Homo sapiens: one gene and its partners. The protein of the gene in region 3 interacts with the protein of the main gene of each other region in a biochemical or structural test. Each region holds a gene or a part of one and is shown on either strand. Other genes may lie near its edges. The genes, in order: RAMP3, ASPSCR1, NSF and PLK2.

Region 1 (7,579 bases), on a different chromosome or scaffold from region 3:
TTTAAACTGTTGCAGTTAACTTTGAGCTCACCAAGGTTCAAAGAAGCCAAGAGGTATGCTCAGGGCCCCAAACTTGCCCTGGCACCAGCTCTGAGTCTTTGCTTATGTCGCCTGGTGGGAGCAGGGCAGAGGGGGATGGGGTCAGCATGCTTAGGGTCAGATGATGTGGTGGGAGAGGGGAGGTTGTGCTCCAGGAAATGACTGTGCGTATTTTGTCCAGCAGGGGCCAACAATGTTCTGCCTGAACACACTCACACATTCCTCACGTGTGCATACACTTATGCCCCACACCACAGTCACAATCATGAGACACATAGATTCATATATGCTCCACACACAACACACATGAACACCCATTCATACACCACACACACACACCATCACCTCACAGCAGGTACACACACATCCCATACACACATGCCACACATTCGTGAGCTGCACAACACACCCACACAGGTACATATACTCATCAGTGCACACACATAAACTCTCACAACACATGCATTATATAAAACCCACCACATGCCACAAAATGCACTGTAGGAAAATGAGAAAGCAGAGACCAGCAGAAGGTAATGTAAATTAAACACCACTTTAAATCTTTCCAGAGCCAGAAATGACCACAGATAACATTTTAATGTATTTTCCTCAAGACATTTTCTGATAGGTTTTTCAAAAATAAAATAAAATGAAAGTAAACTTGCTTCATTGACTTAAAAAAGGAAATGAATGGCAGATGAATGGGTAAATGAAATGTGGTCTATCCACACAACAGAATATTATTCAGCCTTAAGAAGGAAGGAGGCCGGGCGCAGTGCTTCACACCTATAATCCCAGCACTTCGGGAGGCTGAGGTGGGCGCATCACCTGAGGTCAGGAGTTCGAGACCAGCCTGGCAAACATGGTGAAACCCCATCTCTACCAAAAATACAAAATTTAGCTGGGCGTGGTGGGAGGGCCTGTAATCCCAGCTACTTGTGAGGCTGAGGCAGGAGAATCGCTTGAATCCAGGAGGTGGAGGTTGCAGTGAGCCGGGATGGCACCATTGCACTCCTGAGTGACAAGAGCAAAACTATGTCTCAAAAAAAAAAAAAAGGAAATTCATCTCAGCCTCCACAGTATCTGAGACTACAGGCGCACCTCACCACACACGGCTAATTTTTGTATTTTTTTTGTAGAGGCGGGGTTTCACCATGTTGCCCAGGCTGGTCTAGAACTCCTAAGCTCAAGCAGTTAGCCCACCTCGGCATCTCAAAGTGCTGGGATTACAGGCATAAGTCACCACACCCATCCTAAAATGCTTGATTTGACGTTAAGTATTTTTTATTGCAATTAAACAAATGAGCAAACAAACGCAACAGGAGATGGAAGGCTGTGTCTTGATCCGTGGGAAGGTGGAAAACAGCTGAGGGTCAGAGGCACCCCTTCCTGGAATCTCCTTCATCACCCTTCTTTGAAGACCGGTCCTCTGTGTCCCTGGAGAGGGGTCACCGAGGCGTTGCTGCTGCCTCAGGGACAGAGGCGTAGTCTCATCGACAATGATACCGTTATTTCAGTGTCTGTCCAGCAGGGGGAGCCAGGTGCCCGGGAATGGCTTCCCTTGGCTCCTTCTCAACCCCCACCCTCCTGAAGTCTAGCCCCAGAGCAAGCAGAACCAGATCCCAAACCTCACCAGGTTCTGTGCTCAGGCCCTTGCCTGGACACGTGGACTCCGGGCAGAAGCATTACTTCCAGGGAGAGTGAAGGCCCAGCGGCCATGTGTTCCCCTGATCTGGTAGAAACACCAGGATGTTATTTCTTCCTCTTAGAAGAGGCCACTTGAGTGTCAAGAAAATGTTCTCTTACAACTATTTAAGAATAAGAGGAATCACAGAATAAATATCATGATAATGGTGAATCAGGGCTTGATCAGGAGAGAGACTACACCGCAACCTGAATGGGGAAGTTTGGTGTAAAGAATTATGAACCGGCCGGGCGCGGTGGCTCACGCCTGTAATCCCAGCACTGTGGGAGGTCGAGGCAGGAGGATCACCTGAGGTCGGGAGTTCGCGACCAGCCTGACCAACATGGAGAAACCCCGTCTCTACTAAAAATACAAAAATTAGCCGGGCATGGTAGCACAAGCCTGTAATCCCAGCTACTCGGGAGGCTGAGGCAAGATAATTTCTTGAGCCCCGGAGGCAGAGGTTGCAGTGAGCCAAGATCATGCCATTGCACTCCAGCCTGGGCAATAACAATGAAACTCCTTCTAAAAAAAATATAAATAAATAAATAAATAAATAAATAAAATAAATAAATAATTATGAACGCTAAGAGGGGATTCCTGAGAGGACCCCAGTGCACACAGGATCGCAGACACAGGGAATGGTGCCGGGGCCAGCACCCACCGAGGGACAAGCAGGGAGACAGGTGCTGTCCAGGGCACACCCCATGGTCAATCTCATTTATGGCGGCAGCCTTTCCACACTCAGGGTCGGGGGGATGCACCGTGGAAGGGGCAGGTCCCTCTCTCCCATGGCTCAGCTCCTCACAGCCTGTGTTAAACCCACCTGCCCTGCAGAGGCCATGGGCACCACTGGGCACAGAGAGGAGAAGTGAGGGCCCTGCCTTAGAGGGACCTAGGGGCAGTAGACACAACTCCCTGGGAGTTTGTTGGGGCATGGTTGGTTCCATGGAGGAGAGGTGTTGGAACCCAACTCTGTAGAATGGCCAGGGCTTCCCCACTGCAGAGCCAGGGTGGGGAGTCCAGGAAAGGGAGCATTGCTCCCTGGTGCAGGCTTGGGGGAACTGGCTGCCCCCCTCCCACCTGACAACCCCATCCTACTGTTCCAGCCTGCAAGCTATGTGCAACCGCCTTTGGGGCTGTGGGACCGAGTGGAGACTAAGACTCTCCTGGAGAGAGCTGTAGGGCCGAGTCTGTGTGGGATGTGGGTGGACACCTGGGCCTGGACCATCCTCTTGGTTTGTCTTGGCTGGTGTAGGGTGTGCGTGTGTGTAAGCCAGCCCCCTGCTGCCCTGGTCAGCTTGTTTTATGACCCCTGGCCTGTGGGCAGAAGGCCTGGCTGTGGGCACCATCAGTCTCACTAGAGGCTCTGTGGCCACCCCTACACCTGCTGCCCACCCCTCAGGCAGAAGGCAGGACAAATGATCAATTTTAATTAGTTTTGACTCCTTTGAATTAATTCTGGCTGTAATCAGAATTTCTTCAGTAAAAAAGCACAGAAAGTTCTTCTCCCGAATAAGGGTCTTGTTAAATAAAGTGGGTCTTTCTAAGCCAGGAGAAGTTCAGCTCAGCTCCTGGGAAGGTAGCAGTACCTACGGCTCAGAGGAGTGGAGGGCCCATCCATGTAGGAGCCTGGGCCTGTGCCCCAACCTCAGACCAGCATGTGCCCCCAGGGGTGGTGGGTGGGCCCTGGAGGGCAGAGAGGTGCCTCTAGCTGGCTCTCGGAAGTCCTGACCAGTGACAATTCTTAAGACACCATTAAGTGTCCACTGGAGCCAGGGCCTGTGCTAGGGGCTGAGGGTGACAGAGGTGACCCATCTGGCCAAGTGACCTGTGGCTGGAGAAACTGAGGCCCTCCTTCGCCTCAGGGACCCTGACACTCTTCAAGGCCAGGTCTTTGGTGGTGCCAGATACTCTCCTGTCCCTTGGTTTGCTTGTGGCTTGGTTCTTGGTGTGTGATACGTCTCTGTGTGTGTAGTTGCCACACCCTCCAGTCTCTCTCATACACACTGTTTCCCAAGCATACACTCACAAACACACCTTGTCTCAGACTCAAACACACACATGCCACACACACACCATACATCACACACTCCATGCACACACATGCATCTACACACACCCCACATGCACATCACACACACGTACTCCATGAACAACACACACACGCACACACACAGACGCACACACACACACCCCCCAACCTCTTTTATGCACTTTCCTGACCTTTGGAGACCTGGCTCCTAGATGTATCTCTGCTCAAAGTTCCCCTCCCTGCCTGGGGGCAGCTCTGGACTCTGGTCTACTTTCGGCCAGGGCACACCTAGCCCACTCCCAGGTCCACCTTCCTCCAGTCTACCCCCAGACTCCTCTAGGCCATCATCAGCCAGCGCTTCATCCTCACCTCAGCTCCCTCCCCGGTCTACCCCCACCCTCTGCCCCTGAGCCTGGACGGAAGTTCCCCAAGTCTCTCCAGCCTGCATCCCAGCCCACCGTCAGCCGGCCCCCACGCTCACCCCAGCTCACCTCCCAGTCTGCCCCTACAATCTGCTCCCAAAAAGCTCCTTTGCAGCTCAGCACCCCAGCCCCGCCCTCAGAGCCCATCAGCCGGCACCCCACCTTACCCCAGCTTGTCCCCAGCTCGAAACCCTGCCCTCGCCCCCCTCTCACCCCGCTGAGACTCCAGCCGCCCCCATCCCTCCCACCCGGCGCGCCTGCAGGGACTGCACCCCACATCTGGAGGCAACGGGGCACGGCCGCAGGCGTGGTCTGGGGGTGCGGCCTGAGGGCGGACCCCCTGAGGCCCCGCCCCACCCCAACCCCAACCGGGCGTCCCCCAGCCGCGCCCCCAGCGGGACCGAGCGTGACCCAGCTGCGGCCGGCCAGCCATGGAGACTGGAGCGCTGCGGCGCCCGCAACTTCTCCCGTTGCTGCTGCTGCTCTGCGGTAAGGGGGCGACGGCCCGCACCGGGGGCGCCCCCACTCCTCGGGGTTCACCGGACCCGGGTGGACCCGCGCCTTCCCGCACCTGCGCCGCGGTCCTTCCCTTGCCCCGGAGCTCGGGAGGGGCGCACAGTGACCCTGGCGGGATTCCCAGGCTCTGCGGGAGGGTTCCACCCGGGAGAAGCTGAAGGCGAAGGACTCTGGCGGGCAAGGGAGGCACAGGGCCCCCTCCGGGGTCTTCTGACGGCAGGGTCCGGCAGCCCCCGGTCCTTCTAGTTGTGATGTCCCCCCACGCCCCGGTTCTGGGGTCGCCTCAGGGTGGGCGAGAAGAGGTGGACCAGGTCTGGCTCTTTACCCCTTATCCCCCAGGGTGGGCTGTCTGTAAGGTAGTGAGCTCTCTGTCCTGGCATTGAGTGCCTGCCCACCACTCACAGGGGCGTGGGCGGGTGGACTCCGGACTGGGTAGCTGGTCCTCCCAGGGCCCCTCAGTGTGTGGACGCCTGTGTGTGTCCTGGAACTGGCTGAGAGGGGAAGCGGGGCGACTCTCTGAGCCATCCTCTCCTAATGCCTTCTTCGGCAAGAAATCAGGACTCTAGGAAGAACCATTGCTCACAAAATGGAAATAGATTAAACTAAAAGCTTGTTTTGAAGTACCTTGCTAAAGAAATTATCCAAGAAAAAGTAAGAGAGAGAGAGAGAGAGAGAATGTGTGTAAAGGCTGTTGGGGAAGAGTGCTTGCTGAGGGCTGGGGTCCACTGAGTGGTGACTGAGCCTGGCCAGTTCTGGGGGGGACATTGGTGATGGAGGGCCCTGGCCTGGTGGTCCCCAGTTTCCCTGGCTGTAAGATGCAGAGTTGGGCCTGTTTTGATGATTTGGGATTTGGTACGGGAGGTGGGAAAAGGGTGGACCAAACTCAGTGGTCATTTTCCTTCCATTGAAGAGGTCTTGGTGTGCAGAACTTGTGTGGCTTCATTTGGTGTTCCAGGGCTGGAGCCTAGGATGTGGTGGATTTTGTGTTGAAGTGCAAAGGTGGATGGCAGCTTCTGAAATCAGGAGCATGCTGATTTGGGATTTCAGCAAACTTCCAGTGAGCGCCCCTTAGGTGGAGATCTTGGTCGCTATAGTGGAAGGAAGGTCCTCTCAATTCATTCTGGGAGAAGCTGAGGCTTTCCTGATCATCTCCAGTATCAAATTGAGAAGGACCACAGGCTTCCGCCTGCACAGAATCCCCCCTTAATAATCCTGTCTCTCGTGGACCCAGTTCCTGAGGGCCACTTCTTTGTCCTGTTGTGTTGGTCCTGACTGTCCCCCTCCAATGGGACATGGGTTCACGCTCCCTGGCCAGAATAGGGACCAGGTCCAGCTTCTCAGCAGACCCTCCCAGTGTTCGACTGGCCAGAGTGAGATTCAGGGAGAGGTAAAACTTGCTCATGGTCCCAGGCCGATGTGTCAGAGGTATCCGGGACTGGAACCCACATCTGCCCTGGATGCTGCTGTGTCTGGAAGGAAGGAGCTGGGTGGGTTCCTCTTGACTGAGGACTAGCTCAGGAGGACCAGCAGGGAGGGTGCAGGCCTCTGGGGCTTCTTTGAGAATTCCAGACCTTTTTCCAGAAAGCATTTGATGCTGTGTGGGGCTGTGGGGATGCGAAGTCCAGCAGTTGTCTACTCAGCAGGACACTTTGCTGTGGTGCCCAGCTCTTGACTGGACTCTTCTGGTCTGGGTGAAAATCCTGATCATGATCCCAAGATTATAAAGCACTCACTGGCCTCAGTTTCCGAGCTGCAATGTAGATGTAATAATAGCAATCTGTAAAGGGCTGCTGAGACCGTCAGTTTGATTCCATTCAGTTTAGTCCCTATCACCTTGTGTTGGGCATGGGATTGTGGGGTGGAAGGGTTCATGCTTAAACAAGGGGAGGTATGGGAAGGCACCCACCAGTGACTGCACTGGGCCTCATGAGGCTCACTCACAGCACCCAAAGATGGAGCACCATAGTGTGTGTGCCTGTGTGTGCAAGCGTATGAACATGGTACCATCGTTTTTATCATTAAATGATGTCCTGCTGCCATGTTACCTGTGGTCATATTGATTCTACTGAATCAAGTGGGCCCAAGGGCCATGGTTGGATAGCAGTAACTCTGGTGAATTAAAGACTTGGAGGTGGCCGGCCGGGTGCGGTGGCTCACGCCTGTAATCCCAGCACTTTGGGAGGCCAAGGCGGGCAGATCTCGAGGTCAGGAGATCGAGACCATCCTGGCCAACATGGTGAAACTCCGTCTCTACTAAAAATACAAAATATTAGCCGGGTGTGGTGGTGCATACCTGTAGTCTCAGCTACTCAGGAGGCTGAGGCAGAGGAATCGCTTGAACCTGGAAGGCGGAGATTGCAGTGAGCCGAGATCATGCTATTGCACTCCAGCCTGGTGACAAAGCGAGACTCTGCCTCAAAAAAAAAAAAAAAAAAAAAAAAAAAAAAAAAAAAAAAAAGACTTGAAGGTGGTGATTGGCCAAGAAGAGGCCCATAGATTTTTGGCACTGGAGGTTCCTTGGAGGTTATCTGACCTCCATGCTCTTACCTATTCTTCATAAGGAAACAGAAATCTGGAGGTTAGAGAGGAAGTTGCCCAACCACAGAGACCAGGGGCAGAACCGCCCAGAATCCACAGCCTCCCAAGGTCGACTGACCGTGGCCCATGGCAGCCACTTGCCAGTCTCGTCGATGCTCTTTCTGTCAAGGAGGGGGAGAGCGCCTGTGTTTCATTTCCAAATGACTAGCCACAAAAGCCCTTTCTGGCGGAAATGCATCTGTTTGGCTGTTTATCATCTCTCAGTGGCGTCTGGAAGTCCCTGAGACAAAAGAAACACAGGCCGGCATGTTCTTTGTTTCCCAATGAAACCAACCAAAATGGATT
Region 2 (7,479 bases), about 35 Mb from region 3:
CACCTGTAATCCCAGCACTTTGGGAGGCCGAGGCAGGCGGATCACAAGGTCAGGAGATTGAGACCATTCTGGCTAACATGGTGAAACCCTGTCTCTACTAAAAATACAAAAAATTAGCCGGGTGTGGTGGCCGGTGCCTGTAGTCCCAGCTACTCGGGAGGCCGAGGCAGGAGAATGGCGTGAACCTGGGAGGTGGAGCTTGCAGTGAGCCAAGATTGCGCCACTGCACTCCAGCCTGGGTGACAGAGTGAGACTCCGTCTCAAAAAAAAAAAAAAAGAAGATAAAAAAAGGTTAACTAGGGCAATTTAATAGAATTCAACCAAATACAAATATGGAATGAGGGAAGAAGGGGGAGAAGGCTGAGGTGTGGCTTAGAAATATTCAGATGAATTCATCACACTAATTGTGTCCCCTGAGAGGGCCCAGAAAGCAGTGACATCCCAGTAGCCATGAGCACACTCAGCACCCAGAACTTGGTCTCTAAATCCCATTTCCTTGTAAAAGGGATTGGGGTTTCTCTGAAAAATGGCTGACTTCAGGGCTTGGGCAGAGAGGAGATGCCCAAAGAATAATGGAAATGCCAAAAGGATGCAGGAAAGATGTCCACACTTGGACAATTAACTGTGGATTAACTCAGAGTATGATACCAACATTAGATTTCCCAATTTTGTATGAAATTATGGTGGCTATATAAGAGACTGGCCTTATTTTATTTATTTATTTTTTTGAGACTGAGTCTCACTCTGTCGCCAAGGCTGGAGTGCAATGGCGTGATCTTGGCTCACTGTAACCTCCACCTCCCACAATCAAGCAATTCTCCCACCTCAGCCTCCCAAGTAGCTGGAATTACAGGCACCTGCCATCACGCCCAGCTACTTTTTGTATTTTTTGTAGAGATAGGGTTTCACCATGTTGGCCAGGCTGGTTTTGAACTCCTGACCTCAGGTGATCCACCCGCCTTGGTCTCCCAAAATGCTGGGATTACAGGCGTGAGCCACTGCACCTGGTTGAGACTGGCCTTATTCTTAGGAAAGAGAAAAACTGAAGTATTTAGTGGCGAAGGTGCTCAATGTCTTTACTGCAGCCTCGACCTCCTGGGCTCAAGTGATCCTCCTGCCTCAATCTCTCAAATCGCTGGGACTACAGGGACATGCCACCATGCCTAGCTAACCTTTGTATTTTTTGTAGAGCTGGGGTCTCACTATGTTGCCTAGGGTGGTCTCAAACTCCTAGGCTCAAATGATCCTCCTACTTTGGCCTCCCAAAGTGCTGGGATTATAGGTGTAAGCCACTGTGCCTGGCCAGAAAAAGTTTTTACATGTATATGGAGAGAGAGAAAGAGAATATGATAAAACAAATGGGGTGACATGTAAACACTGATTTATCTGGCTAAAAGATATACAGGAGGCTGGGCGTGGTGGCTCACACCTGTAATCCCAGCACTTTGGGAGGCTGAGGCGGGTGGATCACGAGGTCAGGAGATTGAGACCATCCTGGCTAACATGGTGAAACCCCATGTCTACTAAAAATACAAAAAATTAGCCGGGCATGGTGGCAGGTGCCTGTAGTCCCAGCTACTCGGGAGGCTGAGGCAGGAGAATGATGTGAACCCGGGAGGCGGAGCTTGCAGTGAGCCGAGATTGCACCACTGCACTCCAGCCTGGGCAACAGAGCGAGACTCCGTCTCAAAAAACAAAACAAAACAAAACAACAACTAGCTGGGTGTGGTGCTGCACACCTGTAGTCCCAGCTACTCGGGAGGCTGAGGCAGAAGAATCGCTTGAACCCGGGAGGCAGAGGTTGCAGTGAGCTGAGATTTCGCCACTGCACTCCAGCCTGGCGACAGAGGGAGACTCCATCTCCAAAAAAAAAAAAAAAAAAAAAAGATATACAGCAGGAATTCTTGCTTTTGCAAACTTTTCTTCTCTTTCTTCCTTCCTCCTCCCTCTTCTTCTTTCTTCTCCTTCTCCTTTTTTGAGACGGTATCGTACTACGTTGCTCGGGCTGGGGTGCAGTAGTTATTCATAGGCATGAATAGTGGTTCACTAAGGCTGGAACTTAAGTAATTCTCCTGCCTCGGCCACCGGAGTAGCTAAGACTACAGGTGTGAGCCACCTTGCTCGGCTAAGTTTGAAATAATATCAGGATAAAAGATCATCCCTCCTATCAAAAAAAGCATAGGAGCCAGCTTAAAGGAGGTCTCACTGGCCAAATTCGGACCAATTTGAGCATCAAAAAGAATGCTGACTGAATGAAAAAAATACATGAATTCATATTAATAAATATATATATTTCAAGATGGGGTTTCACTCTTGTCGCCCAGGCTGGAGTGCAATGGTGCGATCTTGGCTCGTTGCAACCTCCATCTCCCAGGTTCAAGTGATTCTCCTACCTCAGTGTCCCGAATAGCTGGGATTACAGGCACGCACCGCCATGCCCGGCTAATTTTTGTACTTTTTTTTTAAGTAGAGACAGGATTTCACCATGTTGGCCAAGATGGTCTCAATCTCTTGACCTTGTGATCTGCCCAACTCAGCCTCCCAAAGTGCTGGGATTACAGGCGTGAGCCACCGCGCCTGGCCATATTTAATTTTTTTTTTTTTTTTTTTTTTGAGACAGAGTCTTGCTCCGTCTCCCAGGCTGGAGTACAGTGGCGTGATCTCAGCTCACTGCGAGCTCTGCCTCCCGGATTCACGCCATTCTCCTGCCTCAGCCTCCCAAATATTTAATAACTTTTTAAAGAAGGGGAAGCTTGACCGAAAGTGACTATAAATGTAGAAGAAACAATAAACTTGGGAAGCCATGATTTTGCAGCTTTACGGTTTAACACTGAATCTACTCATTAACTGATGCTAAAACTGTTGGGCAAATGGTTATTGGGAAAACTTGATGCTTGTGGTCTCAGAGAATGACCTCACGCATGCCTTAATTACTCCACAAGGAGCCACGGACCTTGACCATGGAGGAATTCAGCAGACCCAAAGCTGACCAAGTGGTTCAACTTCACGTCCTCACTCATGGCCACGCTGATGTCCTGCACCTCCTGCTGACTTGTCACCTCCCTTCATCATTGCCCCAAACGTTTAACCAAGGATCCAGACTGTGGGACAGTCTAAGGAAAATAGGAACAGACTCTTCAAAAACGCCACTAAAGAATTAAAACCCACCAGGTGATGTGTGGCTCAGTAAGGTTCTGAGGTTGCACAGAGCATGGGACTGGCTGGCTGGATGGGAGGGCTATGGCTAGCCTGGGGCTTTCCCCAGGTTTCTCCAATGTACATAGATGTCCGTGTTTGTCAGCATACAGGTGTGTGTGGGTGACATGGATATGTCATCGACAGGAAGGCACAACAGCACCCATGCAGAGATGTCCTTAGACTCAGCAATGACTGCCGGGTGCGGTGGCTCACGTGTGTAATCCCAGCCCTGTGGGAGGATTGACTGATAACTGCACCAGTTCCCCCTTCCACAGGCTACTGGGCAGCTGAGCCCTAGCCAGGAGTCCGCAGAGACAGGCAGGCACATGGAGAGAGGAGTGCCAAGGCCCGGCTGAGCCATGGAGGTGGGGGGCGGGGCGGAACACGTGCGAGTGCTGTCCATGAGTGGCCCAGGTGCTGGGAGCTAAGCACATTCGACGGCTGCGAGTCAGGAGGGCAGCTCCTTCTGGAAGCCTGGAGCTGGTGAGGCCAGGTGCTTTCCCTGCTGCGGTGGCTGGCGATGGGAGTGTTTCCTGAGGCTGCCACCAAGCCCCTCCTCAGCATGGGTTGGTGCGGGAAGTCCTTGAGTGCCTGTGGGTCGGCAGGAGCTCCGGTGAGACTCAAGTTCGCTCACCCCACGGTTCTGAAACCGGTCTCCCGCCTTTCCTACCCTCAGGTTTAGGGACCGTCGCGGCAGCCCTAGGGCTGCCAGATTCTGCACTCCCATTTTAGGATGAAAGAAATCAGGTCTAGACTGAGGGCCACGAGTCCCAACACCCAGGGAGGATCCGTACAGGGGCGGGGGGACTGCCCCAAACCATAAGGTCAGGAGGTGGACGCTGACCACAGGGACAGGTGGGCAGGGAAGAGGCTCAGCTGCTGGAGTGGAGGAAGCCGGGAGGGTCGGGGGAGAGCAGGGCACCGAGCTGGGGACGTGTCAGGGACGAAGCGAGGGTGGGCGAGCGCGGACCGCTGGGACCCCGGGGCTCAGTGCCGCTCACCGGGGGTGACCGCGCGCCCAGCCCCGGCCCAGCCTGGCCCCGGCGAGCCCATCCAAGCCGCGCTTCCCGGAGGCAGAGGACGACCGCGCTTTCCGGGTCTGGCGCGGGCTTTGGCGGCCCAAGGGCGGGGCCGGGGCGCCGTGGGTGGGGAAAGGGCGGGGCCTGGCAGGACCCGGAAGTGCGCTGCGGCCCCGCCCCCTGGCCGCGTGGCTGCGCGTCCTGGCTGTTGCCGATAAAGTTGTTTGACGCCGGCCCGGCGGCGGGTCACGTGAGCGGAAAATGGCGGCCCCGGCAGGCGGCGGAGGCTCCGCGGTGTCGGTGCTGGCCCCGAACGGCCGGCGCCACACGGTGAAGGTGACGCCGAGCACCGTGCTGCTTCAGGTGCGGCCGCCCGCCCGGGGCGGACGGGTAGGCGGGCGGGGGGCGCTGCGCCGAGGCCCCGCCCATTGCGGTCGGCGTCCCGGTGTTCGGGGGCGGGGCCTCGGCGGCCAATGAGCGGCCTCCTGAGCGGCGGCCCCGCCCCCTGCTCGCCGTCACCTGCGCTTCCGCTGGGGTCCCGGGGGTCCCGGGGGTCCCGAGTGGGGGCGGGGCGGTGGCGAGCCTTCCCAGGGGTGAGGTAGAACGGCGCCGCGTGTCACCCGCATCGAGTACTCGGCGCCCGGCCGAGCCCAGCTCGCGAGGGCGCCGGGAAGAGGGAGGAGTGGAGCCCTAGACCCGCGTTCCCATTCCGGGGCGTCCCCCGGAGCGGGAGCCCGGGTTGCGCGGTGGCAGATGTCCCGGCCGTGGGGCCTGGAAGCGATTTTTGCCGAGTCACTCACTGCACTTTTACTTGGGCACCTTGTGACCGCGAATCAATTAAATGTAAAAGTATTGGCTGGGCGCGGTGGCTCACGCCTGTAAATCCCAGCACTGTGGGATGCCGAGGCGGGTGGATCACGAGGTCAAGAGATCAAGACCATCCTGGCTAAAACGGTGAAACCCCGTCTGTACTAAAAAAATACAAAAAAATTTAGCCGGGCGTGGTGGCGGGCGCCTGTAGTCCCAGCTACTCGGGAGGCTGAGGCAGGAGAATGGCGTGAACCTGGGAGGCAGAGCTTGCAGTGAGCCGAGATCGCGCTACTGCACTCCAGCCTGGGAGACAGAGCGAGACTCCATATCAAAAAAAAAAAAAAAAAGTATTTATTGAGCCTCTGCTGCGTGGGGGACCGTGAGGATCCGAAGGTGCACACGACTCGGAGTTTGCGGGAGCAGCCCACGGCGTGGGGTCCCCAGGCCTGGGCAGGTGGAGGGCGCAGCCAGGAGGCTGTTGGTGCCAGGCGTGCAGAGTGCGGAAGTGGGGCGCTCCCGCAGAGGCTGCGCGGGACCCCTTGGTGCAAGGCCACGGCTTTGGCTTTTTATGGAGAAGAGGGGCGGAGGCGGTGCAGGCAGTGGCAGCAGGTGCACAGAACCGTGCCAGAGCCAGGGGGTAGCTTGTGCTAGGCAAGTTTAAGGCAGGTTGCAGAACTACAGGGTTTGAAGGAGAGCCCAGGGTGTGTGCCAGGAAGATGCCCGTGTTGCTGTACTGCAGGGGAACTCTGAGTGGAGCTTTCCTACAAAACTGAGGGGATGGTGAAGAAGGGAGGGAGAGTGGACAGGATTTGCAGGTGAGAGCCTGCATTTGTTGCGGGGACCGTCCATAGTGTGGTCTTGTGCTTGGCTTTGCCTGGGCAGAGCCACCTGGCTCACCAGGAAGCTGAATGCCCTTGGCTGACCTGGCCCACTGCGCCCGCCAGCCCTGCACACTCAGCAGTTCACCATCCTTTCATCTCACCCCCAGGTTCTGGAGGACACGTGCCGGCGGCAGGACTTCAACCCCTGTGAATATGATCTGAAGTGAGTTTGCTCCAGCTCAGCAGCAGGGTCTGAGTATATCTGTGCCCCTGCCCCCTGAACATACTGGCTCTCACTTGGAAAAGCCCCCAGGTGGTTTTAAACAGTCATATATTCCCTCCCAACTCTGGAGACCCAAGGCCTTGGCAGGGCCACACTCTCTCCAAATGCCCTAAGGGAGAATCCCTCCTGCCTCTTCCAGCTTCTCATGGCTCCAAGCGTTCTGTGGCTTGTGGCCGCATTGCTCTCTGCCTCCGATTTCTTGTGGCCTTTTCCTGTTTTCTCTGTGTCTCAGGAAGACCCTTGTCATTGGATTTAGGGTCCACTTGGATAATCTAGAACGATTTATCATTACATCTTCAAAGACCAGGATCCCTAGTAAGATGTTCAGAGGTCCTGGGGGTGAGGACATTGACCCATCTTTTTTGGGGGGGCCACCATTCAACCCCCTGTAGGTTTTATTGCATTGAGTTGCATAAGTTCCCAGTGGGGCTCTGAGGGGAAAGAGCTGGCCGTGGAGAAATAGGATGCCTTGAAAACTGCAGGTGGATCCCTGCAGTCTCACAGCCCCTGGAATTACACGTACGCTTCTGTGTGGGGATATTGTTCCCAAGAGAGGGCTTCTGCCAGACTCTCAAGGAGTCTGAGACAGCAGAAGGGTCAGAGCCCTCATATGGATAGGATGTGCGTGTCTATCCCACACGCGAAGCTTTTCACTTTAAAGTCCTGTTTTCTGGTGTTTTTTTTGTTTTGTTTTGTTTTTGAGACAGGGTTTCACTCTTGTCGCCCAGGCTGGAGTGCAGTGGCACGGTCTTGGCTCACTGCAACCTCCACCTCCTAGGTTCAAGTGATTCTCCTGCCTCAGCCTCCCGAGTAGCTGAGATTAGAGGTGCTCACCAACACACCCAGCTAATTTTTATATTTTTAGTAGAGATGGGGTTTCACCACATTGGCCAGGACGGTCTAGAACTCCTGACCTTGTGATCCGCCTGCCTTGGCCTCCCAAAGTACTGGGATTACAGAGATGAGTCACCATGCCTGCCCTTGAAGACCTGTTTTTACAGTACTGTTGTCCTAACACTGGGGGCAGAGGGCAGGAGCTTGCCCTCCTGGCATTGCCCACCCTGCCTTACGAGGCTCTCCTGGGAGGAGTTTCTTAGGGGTGATACCTGCCAAGTCATTCCAGTCTTCTACCTTGTGTCTGGACCACGTGAGAATCCCAGGACCTGTGCTCTGAATGCCAGGTGGTCTTGGGCTTTCTGCCCCAGACCTTCACACCATCCTTCTCCAGTCTCTCTTGTCAACTGAAGAATGCGGTTCATATGTTTGGAAAGGAGGGCTTTATTTCTCATAACCGGTTGCAGCTTGCAGGGTGGCCATTCTAACAGGCTGGGAAGTGTAGCCTCCAGCC
Region 3 (6,958 bases):
TTCCCCCAGTTAAATTCTGTTACCACAACCATTACAAACAAATGTCTATATAACCAAAATGTTAGTCAGCCCCATTCCAATGGAGCACATTTTAAGTGATGTTTAATGGGACATAATTTGAACATAAAATTCTATCTGTGCACTGTTTTCAAGTCTTTGAATCAGGCCTCCACCTATAGATGTTGGTTACCTATCAGGGAGCAACAGGTGATGCTAAGGATCACTTTGTAAAAACCAGGAATCACATCCCTGTAACTGACAGGAAACTGACTATATTCATCAGGGTTCTCCAGAAAAATAGAACTAACAGAATGTGTATATACATAGGAGGAAATTTTGTTTAAGGAATTGACTCGTGTGATCGTGGAGACTTTGGGAGCCCAAAATCTGATGGGAGAAGCTGGCATGCAGGAGGCCCAGGGAAGAGTTACAGTTCTAGTCCACAGGTAACCTGCTAGAGAATTCCTTCTTGTTCTGGATGAGTTTGGCCTTTTGTCTATTCAGGCTTTCAAGTGATTGGATGAGGCCCACCTACATTATGGAGGGCAACCTTCTTTACTCAAAGTCTACAGATTTAAATGTAAATCTCATCCAAAAACACCCTCACAGAAACATCCAGAATAATATTTGATCAAGTATCTGGGCAACATGGCCAAGCCAAGTTGACACAGAATTAACCGTCACACTGGATCACAAGGGCTGTGTTCAGCAAGAACTGACCTTGGTCAAACCCTGCCCCTGCCCTTATGCCCCACTCTTCTTCATTCTGGGTCCTGCTATTTCCATTTTATCATGTCTTCATCTTCTTTCCCCACCTTTCAGGTACCTTTCCTCTCTGACCCTATCCCTAGACTCACCTCCTACCCCCCACTCAAAGCCCTTCCTTCCTTAAAAAATGATGTTAGTCATTACACTTTAGGATTTAAATTAATCATTCTGTTAGCCGTCTTACTAACTTTCTCACTGTGAAAGGAAAGCATATTAAAAGAATTTCAGGGATCGACGAAGAGCTGAGGGAGGTATTTTTCTAGGAAGAGAAAGTGACTAACAGAAATCAAGACAAAGGGGGACAATCAGATTTTTCAGATGACAGAAAGCAGGTAAACTCTAGAGATCTAGAGAACTAGCAAATGGTCTCTTCAGGGTGTCATCATTGCAGTAAATGAGCTCTAGCTATTTCTGTCTTTATTCTTCAGGGTATTCAAGATTGCAGTTACTTAGGAGAGACAGAGCATCTGACTGATTGAACTTGGGTTCTGTATTCACTCCTGGGCCAGGGGGAGGCAGGGTACCTGGTCTGACAGTCCTTCCAAGGCTGCATGAACCAGAGGAGCTGTTACCAGAAAAGGGCAGAGTGAATTTGGGGCAGCAAAAACATTTATTGCTTATCGACTATCACTGCAAGGATTACTCAGAGGGTGATGCAGAATCAGCACCCCTCTATTTCTAAGATGACCTTGAATGTCAGAGCAAGGCACAAACAGGTTGCAGAGACATGTGGAGTATCTGGAGCACTGTCTCAGGATCCTTCCTCTCCTGCTGGATGCTAAGGACCTTAAGGACAAGAGCTATCTTTGCTTGCAATTTATTTGGCAGGCCCTGCAGGGCTGTGCAAATGATTCTATTTAATTTTTACTACTTGTGAGAAGGCACAGAGGGCTTTGAGAGGGCACAGAGGGCCTCTTATAATGGGTAGATATGCACATTAGCTGATACACTGGAAACTTTCCAGCAGGCATATCCTTCCAAGATGATAAATATTCTTCCTTGTTGGAGAAATTGAAGACATTTGTACTTGCAATCTAGCTTATCTAGTAAAACAAGACAAACTAACCAGTGATAGGGAGAAACATGTTTGCATTATTTTCCAACCTTGAAAATAATGTCAGATTATTGGACTGAGAACCAATGTCATCTTCTGGATCTGGTAATTATTTGGACAAAATCTCTTTGATTCTAGGTTCAAAGTCAAGGTGTCAAAAAAAAAAAAAAGGATACAACTGTTAAGCTTATTTAATTATACCTCTCACTGTACAAATAAGGAAACTAGGCCAGGCGTGGTGGCTCACTTCTGTAATCCCAGCACTTTGGGAGGACAAGGCCAGTGGATCACCTGAGGTCAAGAGTTCGAGACCAGCCTGGACAACATGGCAAAACCCTGTCTCTACTAAAAATACAAAAATTAGCTGGGTGTGGTGGCAGGCGCCTGTAATACCAGCGACTTGGGAGGCTGAGACAGGAGAATAGCTAGAACCCGGGAGGCGGAGGTTGCAGTGAGCCGAGATCATGCCACTGTGCTCCAGCCTGGGTGACAGAGTAAGACTGCGTCTCAAAAACAAACAAACAAAAACAAATAAGGAAACTGGGCTCAGAGAGATGAAGGTACACAGGTGATGGGTAGATAGGGACAAAGAAAAGAACCTAACCCTTTGGACTCCCCAAGCCATTCTAATATTTGTTTTTGTAAGTTAGTAGCTTCTGCACGTTAGTATGTCAGAACTCAACTAGTTTCCTATCTTTCCTGATAACCTCTCCGACCCACCCATGATTTAGCTAACATCTGATTTGGTCAACCAAGCACCCTGGTCCTCAGGTTCAGTGTGAGACTTAATGAAATAGGCGTGAATTTTTTTTTTTTTTTTTTTTTTTTTAGACGGAGTCTCGCTCTGTTGCCCAGCCTCGCAATCTCAACTCACTTCAACCTCTGCCTCCGGGGTTCAAGCGATTCTCCCACCTCAGCCTCCTGAGTAGCTGAGATCACAGGCGCCCGCCACCACGCCCGGCTAATTTTTGTATTTTTAGTAGAGACGGGGTTTCACTATATTGGCCAGGCCGGTCTGGAACTCCTGACCTTAGGTGATCCACCCAAAGTGCTTGGATTACAGGCATGAGCCACCGCGCCTGGCTGGCATGAATTTTTTCTTCTGTCCCTAGTTCATCTTCAGGTCACTGTCTGATTTTATTAGTTCTCAAATTTAAATCACTATGCATGCTCAGCTCTTCTAGTTATTTCCCTTCTTTCCTCATGTTGGGAAAAAAACCCCGATTTATTCTAATTGTGAGAAATGAAAGCGAACAAATCCTATCATTCCCTATTGTCTTGTGCAAATATGAAGAGAGATATGATAGTGGGGTAAATAAAAGCATCAGGGAATCCATTCGGCAGAATCTTTCTCCTCTCAGCGTGCTTGCAGTTAGATATTCTGAGATTCCAGTGGAGAAATGGTATGGTGGAAACATTGAGGTTCAACAAGGCTCAATTTAGGGCATATTTTATTCAGATTCTACCATATATATTGTCTAAAATGAAACAACACTGGGGAATGAAAAGGTTGGTCGAAGATGCAAGTTGCCTTTATTAAATAAAGACAAATATTTAATAAAAATAATGTATAAAAATAATCACAATTCACTTTCAAATCTGAAAATACTGAGTTTTCCAGGCTACACATAAATAAAACTGCCAACGATGACAATTCCAGCAACTAGGAAAACAAGTACGCCTACAAAGAAAAGTGAGAAAATTCATGGAGAATTTGAACTCAGAACCAACTCCTCGGAGCTGATCTTTTTTGGGGGAAGCCAGGGAACGCGCCGGGCGCTCTCATCAGCAAGACCATGTTTAAAGAGAGTGTGGAAGCACAGACCAAAATGGACATTCGAGGGCGAACAGCAGCTGGCAAAGGGATAAGTGATCCGAAGCATTAAAGCCCTTGAGACAAATTCCGGCGCGAACCGCCAGTGGGGGATGAGACTCGCAGGCGCAGCCCTCCAGGCCCCGGCGGACTGACACGCACGTTGGAAACGGAGTCACCCACCACAGCCCCGCAGCTCCAGCCAAAATGGCGCCGCCGCTCTGCCCACCCCGCGCACCCCAGGCGGCCGCCGAGCCCGCGCGCGCGCCCTGTGGAGCGAGGACGCCGGGGACGCGGCCAGGGACGCGCGCGTCCTCACGGCGGTTGCACGCCTGCGCGAGGGCGGGCGGCGGGGGCGCGCGCGCGGCGGGGGCGGGCTTTGCCGAGCGCAGAGCTGCAGCCGCCGAGCCGGACGTGTCCGCGAAGATGGCGGGCCGGGTGAGTGCCGGTCTGGGAGCCCAGGCTTGAGGCAGGGGCGCCGGGCTCGCGGGCACTCTGGGGTCCAGGCGGCCCCAGAGGAGTGGGAGTGAATCCGAGCAATGGGGCGCGAGGCCAGAGCGGGACTTGAGGGTAGCAGGGGAGCGGTGGCAGGGGATTAGCCCTCCTCAACAACTCCACCCCCCTCGAGGGGAGATGACCCCTCGTTACACGCGTCTGCTGCGCCTCCCGTCATCCTCCCTTCCCATCCCTTGGGGCTTGTTCCCTCGTCCTCCACACAGCCGCAGGGTCGCGGTCGCCGAAGCCCCCTCTGACGGGCTCTGGGGGTCTTTCCGCACCCCCTTGCGAGGGCTTATTAGGGGGCGCCGGAGTAACTGCCGGGAGCACCTCTGCTGCATTCGGGGCAAGGGGTGTAGGAAGGATCTTCAGGAACCCATGTCTGGCTCTTCACAAATTAAAGGTCGTTGGGAAAGAGGAGGGGGTGCCAATGACTTTTAGTGTTAAAGCCCGGCCATCTGGGGGACCTGTCAACTGTCGGGTCAGGCAGGAATTGGCTTTAGCTTGGAGTGAGGATGGATTTGGGGTGTCACGTTTTGTTTTTATGGATGACACTCGCTTCGAATGCAGCAGGATATGCTGTAGTTTCAGGGTTTTAAATTTACTTCCTCCTTTAGCCTTTAGGATCGTTGGGTAGGATGGGTTTGGCGAGGAGAGAGAGCTGGTTGAGTGCTGTATTGCAGTCTGCCTTGAGCTAAAAGCTCTCAAGGGATGAGTCCTGCCCGGAGATTACACTGGTCATAAACCTGAGGACATTAACTGCGTCATTGGGGGTGAAAGATGTGATTGACTGATCTATTTATAACAGAATTTTTGAATAAGTTTGCATAGATTTATGCATATATGCAAATGCCCTATCTGAAGGGACTTGTAGGTCATGAGATTCTAGAGTAAGAAGGGATCTTAAAGGTCATTTAGTTTGGCTTCTTTCTCTTCCTTTTCCCCATGGCCTCTCCTTTTAAGGCTAGTCCTTCTGCCAGTACTTCAGACCCTATCTGTATATTCACCTGCTCCTTCTTAACATAATCAAGCTTCTCTATCTTAAACCCTTCCCCCACCCCCACAGCTGTCACCTTTTCCCGTCCCAGTTTACAGCAGGAAATTTGATAGAGTTGTCTATATTTATTGTCTTCCATTTGCTTACCACCTACTCACCCTTCAACCTACTGCAGTCTGATTTCTGCCCCATCATCCCACTGAAACCTGTCCCTCAACTTAATTGATACCTTTCAATCCTTATCTTATTTGATATCTCAGCAGCGTTTGACGTTGTTGACCATGGCTTCCTTGACGGAAAGCACTCTTCACATGTGTTCTGGAATGCCTCGCTCCTGGTTTGACTCAGACCTCTCTTTTGCGGCCTCACCCTCCTCTACTTTGTTATTCATTGCTGGTATTCCTCAAAGGCCGTCTTCTCACTCTCAATTTCCCGCTCAGGCAATTTCTTCTAAGCCCATAGCTACAACTGTCTATATGCCAGTGATTCTCAATATTTTACCCCCAGTCCAGACCTGCCCTTTAAGTTTCAGGTTAATATGTCCAACTGCTTATTTAAAATCAAGGTCCCGAAACGCAGCTTTTTCAACTCCGAACCCAGGATCTTAGCCCACCTAACTTGTGTAGATACTCCTCGACTTAACGATGGGGCTACCTTCCGATAAACCCATTGTAAGCTGAAAGTATCAGAAGTTGAAAATGCATTTAATACACCCGATCTACCGAATATCATAGCTTAGCCTAGCCTGCCTTCCTTACACATGCACAGAACACTTACATTAGCCTACAGTTGGGCAAAATCATCTAACATAAACCTATATTATAAAATGTTGAATACCTCATGTCATTTATTACTGTGCTGATAGTGAAAAACAGAATGGTTGTGTAGGTCTTCAAAGTACAGTTTCTGCTGAATGCCTATCACCTTTGCACTATTGTAAAGTTGAAAAATGTTAAGTCAAACCATTGTAAGTCAGGGACCATCTGTACCTATCCAGTGAGATAGGAATATCTCACTGAATGATACCATCATCCACCCAGTTATATAGGCTGGGAATCTGAGGGAGGGAGAGGGTGGGTAACCCTTTATGTCTCTCTTTTGCTGTACCCATGTCCTCTGCCCTATCCCCCGGTAAAATTTGTCAGAGTTCTGCTCCTGCCCCCCATAAAGGTATTTAATTAGGGCCAAAGACTCTGGTTTGGGGGAATGGTTGCTTTAGACTAGTTCCAAGTCACCCACTGGACTATCTGGATTGGTCACATGGGTTCTGTCATTTTAACCTAAAAATCTCCAGTCTGTCCACCTTTCCACATCTTCATTTTTACCTCCTTTTCCCAAACTACCATCATTTCTGGTCTGGACTACTGCAGGAAGCTTCCAAGTATTTTTTTGTTCGTTTGTTTGAGATGGAGTTTCGCTCTTGTTACCCAGGCTAGAGTGCAATGGCGTGATCCCTGCTCACTGCAACTTCCGCCTCCTGGGTTCAAGCCATTTTCCTGCCTCAGCCTCCTGAGTAACTGGGATTACAGGCGCCCACCACCACACCCGGCTAATTTTTGTATTTCTAGTAGAGACGGGGTTTTACCATGTTGGCCAGGCTGGTCTCGAACTCCTGACCTCAGGTCATCCACCTGCCTTGGCCTCCCAAAGTGCTGAGATTCGTGCCCGGCCTCCCAAGTAGTCTTCTTAGAGCATGTGGCCCACCTCCAATTCATTCTTGACCTTCATTGTTCCTTCCCGTGCCTATTACTACTTAAACCCCTCCTCAGCAGCATCCCATTACTTTTGGGAGAAAACCAAATCCTTAATGAGGCCTTCAGGACTCTTTGTG
Region 4 (7,573 bases), on a different chromosome or scaffold from region 3:
TTACATAGGTATACACGTGCCTTGGTGGTTTGCTGAATCCATCAACCCGTCATCTACATTAGGTATTTCTCCTAATGCTATCCCTCCTCTAGGCCCCCACCTCCTGATAGGCCCCAGTGTGTGATGTTCCCCTCCTTGTGTCCATATGTTCTCATTGTTTAATGCCCACTTATGAATGAGAACATGCAGTGTTTGGTTTTCTGTTCCTGTGTTAGTTTGCTGAGAATGATGGTTTCCAGCTTCATCCATGTCCCTGCAAAGAACATCAACTTATCCTTTTTTATGGCTGCACAGTATTCCATGGTGTATATGTGCCACATTTTCTTTATCCAATCTATCATTCATGGGCATTTGGGTCAGCTCCAAGTCTTTGCTACTGTGAACAGTGCTGCAATAAACATACATGTGCATGTGTCATTATAGTAGAATGATTTATAATCCTTTGGGTATACACTCAGTAATGGAATTGCTGGGTCAAATGGTATTTCTGGTTCTAGATCCTTGAGGAATGGCCACACTGTCTTCCACAATTGAACTAATTTACACTCCCACCAACAATGTAAAAGCGTTCCTATTTCTCCACATCCTCTCCAGCATTCGTTGTTTCCTGACTTCTCAATGATCGCCATTTTAACTGGCGTGAGATGTATCTCACTGTGGTTTTGATTTGCATTTCTCTAATGACCAGTGATGATGAGCTTTTCTTCATGTTTGTTGATAGCATAAATGTTTTCTTTTGAGAAGTGTCTGTTCATATCATTTGCCCACTTTCTGATGGGGTTGTTTTTTTTCTTGTAAATTTGTTTAAGTTCTTTGTAGATGATGGATATTAGCCCTTTGTAAGATGGATAGATTGCAAAAATTTTCTCCCATTCTGTAGGCTGCCTGTTCACTCTGACGATAGTTTCTTTTGCTGTGCAGAAGCTCTTTAGTTTAATTAGATCCCGGCAAATGGGCACGGTTCTTTTAAATAAAAACTTATTGACAAATGTAAGAATTGGGCTTAATTTGGCCAGGGTTTTTATCATTTGTTGATGTGTCATGCATCATTTTATATATGAGATTATATCCATAGGATAAATTCCTAAGTAAGAGAATACATTCATTTCTAAATTTGATAGATTTGGCCAAATTACTTTTCACTGAAATTATATCAATTTCCATTCCCAACAGCAATATATGGAGTGCTGCTTCCTCAACACTTCAGCAGTTGAGCATGTTCACGGCAACTTTTGAGGGTTTTGCCAATTTTGTAGGAAAGGGTGCCTCAGTATATCTTTCATTTCAATTTCTCTTCTGAAGAGTGAAATTGAGCAAATGTAAGAACCATTTGTTTTCTGTTGGATAATTGGTATTTTATCCAATTGTAGGAGTTTTTATATAACAGGAAGATAAGCTCTTTCTCTGTGATGAGTTGAAAATAATTTTTCCAGTGTTATTTATCCTTTGACTTTATTTGTGGTGTTTTGTTATTTTAAATCAATGAAAGGGTTTTGTTTCTATATAGTTACATTAATGAATCTTGCTTTTTTTTTTTTTTTAGGGATTCTAGATTTTGTAAATAGTTGAAAGTTCTACCACATTCAGGCTATGAAAGAATTCTTTCATATTGTCTTAAAATTTCACGTATTTCAAACTTTCATTTGCTTGAAAATAAGCCAGATATGAAGCATGGATCCATTTTTTCCTTCCTACTGGTTACCAAATTGACTCCATGATATTTAGTAATTAGTCTACTTAATAGAAAGCGCATTTATTTCCTTTTTTGTTCTATAGACTACAATTTTGGTTCTGTCCACATGATGGCACCACAACCCCAAAAAAATCATGTTCTCAGTCGGAAAGAAGACAACATAAGATTTACACAGCGTTAATATTTTATTAAATGCCTCCATGTTGTGGCAGACAGACCTGAATTTCACATGGAATGTTCAACAGTTTATCAAATACTGAAGTCCATTTGGTAAAGATACATACCATAGTGTATGCTAATCAAAGAAGAAATTGACATTTAAAAAAAAATCATGACAATCTATTCTTCAGTTTTTTATCTTAGGCCACAAATGAATACACATACACATACACACATATGTATACATATACAGTTTATTATCAACCATAAAGACATGGTGTGTAAACTAGCTTTGATAAATTCTAGTAATATTTTCTAAACCTGCAAGCCTTCTACATCTTAGAGAGTAGGTTTGCACAAATCTGGGAAGCAAAGGTCACCCCTGGGCTTATGAATAAAGAGGATAATTACGTAATTCTGAATTTCCACCCCTAAGCCCCACCCCTTATTCCATCCCTGACAATCTTGGGGTTAAAGTCTATTGTCACTTATGAGAAACATGCCTGGACTTGCCCTGCACTCTTTAAAGAATCAAAAACGGAAGTGACAGCAAAGACTTTCCCTTTCTCCTCGCTAATGGCAAAGCCTTTCCCTTTCTCCTCTCTAATGGCAATAAGCCTCTTTTCCACATTATGCTGGAAGTATTTGAGACACAGTATTTTTGTAAATGTTCGATTAATGTTGATACCACACATACCTAAATTTGACAGTGGACTGCAGCAACTTTTTGTATGTACCTTCCAGGGATTCAATAATCTGGTATTCTAAATTTCTCTGGAATTTAGCTTCAAAAAACTATTTACCATATCCTGTTAACATAGGTAAAAAGATTCAAGTGTGCTGCTAATTAACCTAACCTCGATGATCTAGTAAAAATATACAATAATTACCTAAGTTCTCCAAGCCTCATCTATAAAATGGGAATAATAATGTAGGAGATGAGAATATGCCACCCCAAATATGGCCCTGGGATAAAGATTATTTTAAGATAATTATTTTGAGAACCAGCAGACCCAGGAAATGCTCTAAAAATGGCATATTACCCTTTCGTAAGGGAAACGTACATTCACTAAAAAAAAAAACAACAAAAACAAAAAACAAAAAAACCCCACAAAACTCCATTTGTAAAAGTGTCTCCTCTGTACCAGGAAGAATGACTCTAAATCATGAAAAACTTATCAATGAAGAAATAAGAAACCCCACTCCTGTTTACCGTACATTTCCTGGTCATGATTCCTTAACTTGCCTGCCCCACTCTTTTCTTTTGGTTTAGCTAAAGATAGTATTTAAGCCCGATTTTAAACCATCTCTAATTTTCCTGGTTATCTCCCATGTATATATGAGACGTATATGTTAATAAGCTTCTTTGTTTTCTTGTTAATCTGTCTGGTTACAGCGACCCAGGCCAAAACTTTGAAAGGTGGAAAATTATTTTTCCTTCCTTACAATATTTCTCTCAGAATTGTTGTAGGATGAAATAAGGCATTTAAAAATACTGCACAGTCCTCAATAAATGTTACTCTATCGTAATTAGAACAAGAAAAACAAACAAAAAAACGTGTTCCTAGATTAGTCAAACTGCACAGCAAAATCTGGAAATGGGAAACTAAGCTGTGTTTGCACTCACTGGCCTACGCTCCTCTCTTCATCCTACCAATCTCCCTACCCCAGAAAGTCTCAGATTGACTCTCCAGGAACCAGGGCAGCTCATGAGCCATCTCAACAGATGCATTCGGAAGAAGTCATAGATGACTCTGATTGGAAACTCACAATCGGCATCGATGTTTAGTACTAGTAACTGTCAAAGGCCCACGGTTGTCAACCGCTGCCCACTTCGACACCTAACGGCATTCCGGAACATTCCACAAGATGGCGCCCTTGCTTTCCAATCTTCGGGCTACGGGCGGAGGACGCCTTGCCAGGACGCCGACCTCGCTCTGCAAGGTTCAGGGGCCGACCTCAGACAGAGGCTCGCTCTAGGGGCATGGGCGGGGGCCAGACGGGCCTCGAGTGGGATCCTGGCACGGTTGGCCGATCGGCCCGGGATCCCGGCTGCGGGCCCGTGTCTGCCCTAGCGCGATGGGCTCGAATGCCCGGCTCCACGAATCCCGGCCTTTCACCCCCACGGCCTCTCGGCACTGCCCCAGCTAGACACCAGCGAGCTCGTCACAGCGCGGGCAGGCACTGCGGGGCAGCTGCAGACGAGCCCTGTCATACGGCCGGAGGAGGCCTCGCCTGCCCGTGCGGCGGGCTCCGGGCACCCTGATACCTTGACACAGGAGGCCCCGGGCGGCCGGGAAGGGCTGTGCGGGGGAGGGACTGCGTCTACACCCGCGCCCGACTCGCTCGGGTCACGGCACTGCCCTGCCACCAGGCGGCTGGGGCGGGGGTGAGGCCAGGCGTCGGCCCTCGCGATTCTGTTTTGTACGCTGAGGCTCGGAGCCTTCGAAGAACGGGACAGCGGGGCCCACGGACGGCTCTGAAGGCCTTCCCGCGGCCGCAAGAGATCTCGGCGGCCGGCGTTTGAGGCGCGCGGCTCCGCTGGGAAGCGAGACCCGGGTGGCGGGACAAGACTTGCTTCCCGGCCACGCGCGCTCGGCCGGCCGTGGGGCGGGGCATAGGCCGTGACGTGATGTCGCGTATCGAGTCTCCGCCCCCTTCCCGCCTCCCCGTATATAAGACTTCGCCGAGCGCTCTCACTCGCACAAGTGGACCGGGGTGTTGGGTGCTAGTCGGCACCAGAGGCAAGGGTGCGAGGACCACGGCCGGCTCGGACGTGTGACCGCGCCTAGGGGGTGGCAGCGGGCAGTGCGGGGCGGCAAGGCGACCATGGAGCTTTTGCGGACTATCACCTACCAGCCAGCCGCCAGCACCAAAATGTGCGAGCAGGCGCTGGGCAAGGGTTGCGGAGCGGACTCGAAGAAGAAGCGGCCGCCGCAGCCCCCCGAGGAATCGCAGCCACCTCAGTCCCAGGCGCAAGTGCCCCCGGCGGCCCCTCACCACCATCACCACCATTCGCACTCGGGGCCGGAGATCTCGCGGATTATCGTCGACCCCACGACTGGGAAGCGCTACTGCCGGGGCAAAGTGCTGGGAAAGGTGACAAGCGGAGGGCGCCGGGCTGCCGGGCGGGCGGGAGGTCTGTCCGGGCGACCCCAAGCCGGGCAAGCCCGCGGGGTCCCTCGCCCGCCGCTTCCGGGTTTTTCGGGGGTCCGATCCCAGCGCGAGGTGGGCTCCTCACCTGCCCTCTGGCTTTTGTGCGCCGGCAGCGCTGGGGATCGGCTTTGCATTCTTAGCCTCAGAACTGTGTGTCTCCCGCAGCCCAGAGAAATGCATCTTGAGTCTGGAAGCGAGGGCTTTCTACATCAGACCTCTCTCCCTCTATCTGCTCCCAGGGAATTTTCCTGACAAGTCTCATCAGAGATTATTTTTCATGTCTCCCCGTTCCAACTCCCTCCATAAAGCTCCCCTTTATAAAAGAAGAAGAGAAACTGTTTGAACTTGCTGTTTCCAGCAATGCATTTCTCTTCATGAGGGAGCTTTAACGAAGTCGAATGCCTCCCTCTGTCCACCCTCCTCCATTCCTCAATTTTTTTTTTTTTGCTTTTCTTTCTTCCCATTTATTTATTTATTTAAAATATCTGCCGTCCATTTTTGTGCCATCCTCAATTCCGTCTCGGCTTTGTTTCCTTTCAGGGTGGCTTTGCAAAATGTTACGAGATGACAGATTTGACAAATAACAAAGTCTACGCCGCAAAAATTATTCCTCACAGCAGAGTAGCTAAACCTCATCAAAGGGAAAAGGTGCGTATGACTCTTGAGTAAAGTATTTTCTTTGTGTGCAAGGATGGCCCTTCCCTGTTAGGAAAATGTCTTCTGCATGTGTAATCACTGGCTTTTCCGAGGTGACTGGAAGCTAATAAGCCTTACCTTGCTTTTTCATTTAGATTGACAAAGAAATAGAGCTTCACAGAATTCTTCATCATAAGCATGTAGTGCAGTTTTACCACTACTTCGAGGACAAAGAAAACATTTACATTCTCTTGGAATACTGCAGTAGAAGGGTAAGTGTCAACTCCTATTTGAGAACATTTGCTTACCCCGAATTAACATGGTATTCAAAGAGTATTTTATCTGGGATTTTAGCTGTGGCAGCACTTACACTGCAAAGTTAACTTTCATTGCTCATCCTGCAAAGGGAAACCAGTGATTTTGATAACTGTTTTGACAGATTCTCTTTTTTCCTTCTCCTCTTCTTAGTCAATGGCTCATATTTTGAAAGCAAGAAAGGTGTTGACAGAGCCAGAAGTTCGATACTACCTCAGGCAGATTGTGTCTGGACTGAAATACCTTCATGAACAAGAAATCTTGCACAGAGATCTCAAACTAGGTAAGTCATTGACGCCAAAAGCTGAGTTTTGTGTTAGAGTTCTTTTTTCTCTCTCTGTTTTTTTTTACATATTAATGTTCTTAATTGGGATCTCGTGTCTGCAATCTTGCTTTTGAATGGGCGACTTTCATATAACAATTGGCTGCCTGGCTCCAAAGTGGATGTGTGTGTACTTGGTTAGAACGCATTTTCAAAGGGATTCACATTTTGTTTTGTTTATCGTCTAGGGAACTTTTTTATTAATGAAGCCATGGAACTAAAAGTTGGGGACTTCGGTCTGGCAGCCAGGCTAGAACCCTTGGAACACAGAAGGAGGTAAGAGTCAGAAAGATGCATCCTAGTAGACTTTTGTGGAGACCAAATATGCCTTCATTATTTTGCATTTAATGTTTCAGAGGTCCGGTAATAAAATCTATAAATCATAGCAATGTTAATTTAAAGAAATACTTATTAAATGCCCACTATGGACTAGACAGAGCACCCTGTGCCTCTAAATTGATTATGAAAGCAGTCAATGAAGTCTTTTCTTGGCTTAAAATGTATAAAATGCCACGACGTCCCTGGCTTTAGTTGGTTAACAACACTTTGCATGTGGGCTAAAACAACGTGTGTGCATTTTTAAAAATTACCAAAACTCATTTGGTCAGATCTCAATTGAATTTTCAGATGCCAAAAGTCAAATGTTTCCAAATAGAAATTCAGTATAGATTTTAAGATTTTGTTTAAGATTTTGTCTCCCATCAAGTCATGTCAAGAGAACCAAGTTTAAGTAGTGGAATAGTTCCTAACACGATCTCAATATTTTGTCTTTCCAGAACGATATGTGGTACCCCAAATTATCTCTCTCCTGAAGTCCTCAACAAACAAGGACATGGCTGTGAATCAGACATTTGGGCCCTGGGCTGTGTAATGTAAGTAAATGCAGCAGAATAATTAAAAAGCAAATTCGGATTTAGATTTTAACACTTGAAAAGAGTTGCTTTATGACCATTGCTAAAGATGTGTTTCTTTGCACACAGGTATACAATGTTACTAGGGAGGCCCCCATTTGAAACTACAAATCTCAAAGAAACTTATAGGTGCATAAGGGAAGCAAGGTATACAATGCCGTCCTCATTGCTGGCTCCTGCCAAGCACTTAATTGCTAGTATGTTGTCCAAAAACCCAGAGGATCGTCCCAGTTTGGATGACATCATTCGACATGACTTTTTTTTGCAGGTTGGTGCACTATCTTTTTTTTTTAATTACCTGGTATTGATCCCAGTTACCTGACAGGTTACTGAAGGCTTTTTCTAATATTCCACAGGGCTTCACTCCGGACAGACTGTCTT

The links.
Region 1: the proteins of NSF (region 3) and RAMP3 interact in far-western blotting, tested with the Homo sapiens proteins (one study listed by BioGRID).
Region 2: the proteins of NSF (region 3) and ASPSCR1 form a complex in vitro, tested with the Homo sapiens proteins (one study listed by BioGRID).
Region 4: the proteins of NSF (region 3) and PLK2 form a complex in vitro, tested with the Homo sapiens proteins (one study listed by BioGRID).

What each region holds. Positions count from the first base shown.
Region 1 is NC_000007.14:45,153,218-45,160,796, forward strand, and holds the start of RAMP3 (receptor activity-modifying protein 3 precursor), read left to right. Parts: upstream 1-4,573; 5' UTR 4,574-4,611; coding exon 4,612-4,669; intron 4,670-7,579. UniProt on the Homo sapiens protein: Accessory protein that interacts with and modulates the function of G-protein coupled receptors including calcitonin gene-related peptide type 1 receptor (CALCRL), calcitonin receptor (CALCR) and G-protein coupled estrogen receptor 1 (GPER1).
Region 2 is NC_000017.11:81,973,169-81,980,647, forward strand, and holds the start of ASPSCR1 (tether containing UBX domain for GLUT4), read left to right. Parts: upstream 1-4,460; 5' UTR 4,461-4,478; coding exon 4,479-4,580; intron 4,581-6,015; coding exon 6,016-6,071; intron 6,072-7,479. UniProt on the Homo sapiens protein: Tethering protein that sequesters GLUT4-containing vesicles in the cytoplasm in the absence of insulin. Modulates the amount of GLUT4 that is available at the cell surface. Enhances VCP methylation catalyzed by VCPKMT.
Region 3 is NC_000017.11:46,586,715-46,593,672, forward strand, and holds the start of NSF (vesicle-fusing ATPase), read left to right. Parts: upstream 1-3,954; 5' UTR 3,955-4,061; coding exon 4,062-4,073; intron 4,074-6,958.
Region 4 is NC_000005.10:58,457,068-58,464,640, reverse strand, and holds the start of PLK2 (serine/threonine-protein kinase PLK2), read left to right. Parts: upstream 1-4,554; 5' UTR 4,555-4,681; coding exon 4,682-4,951; intron 4,952-5,548; coding exon 5,549-5,656; intron 5,657-5,799; coding exon 5,800-5,916; intron 5,917-6,112; coding exon 6,113-6,242; intron 6,243-6,469; coding exon 6,470-6,557; intron 6,558-7,057; coding exon 7,058-7,153; intron 7,154-7,261; coding exon 7,262-7,460; intron 7,461-7,548; coding exon 7,549-7,573.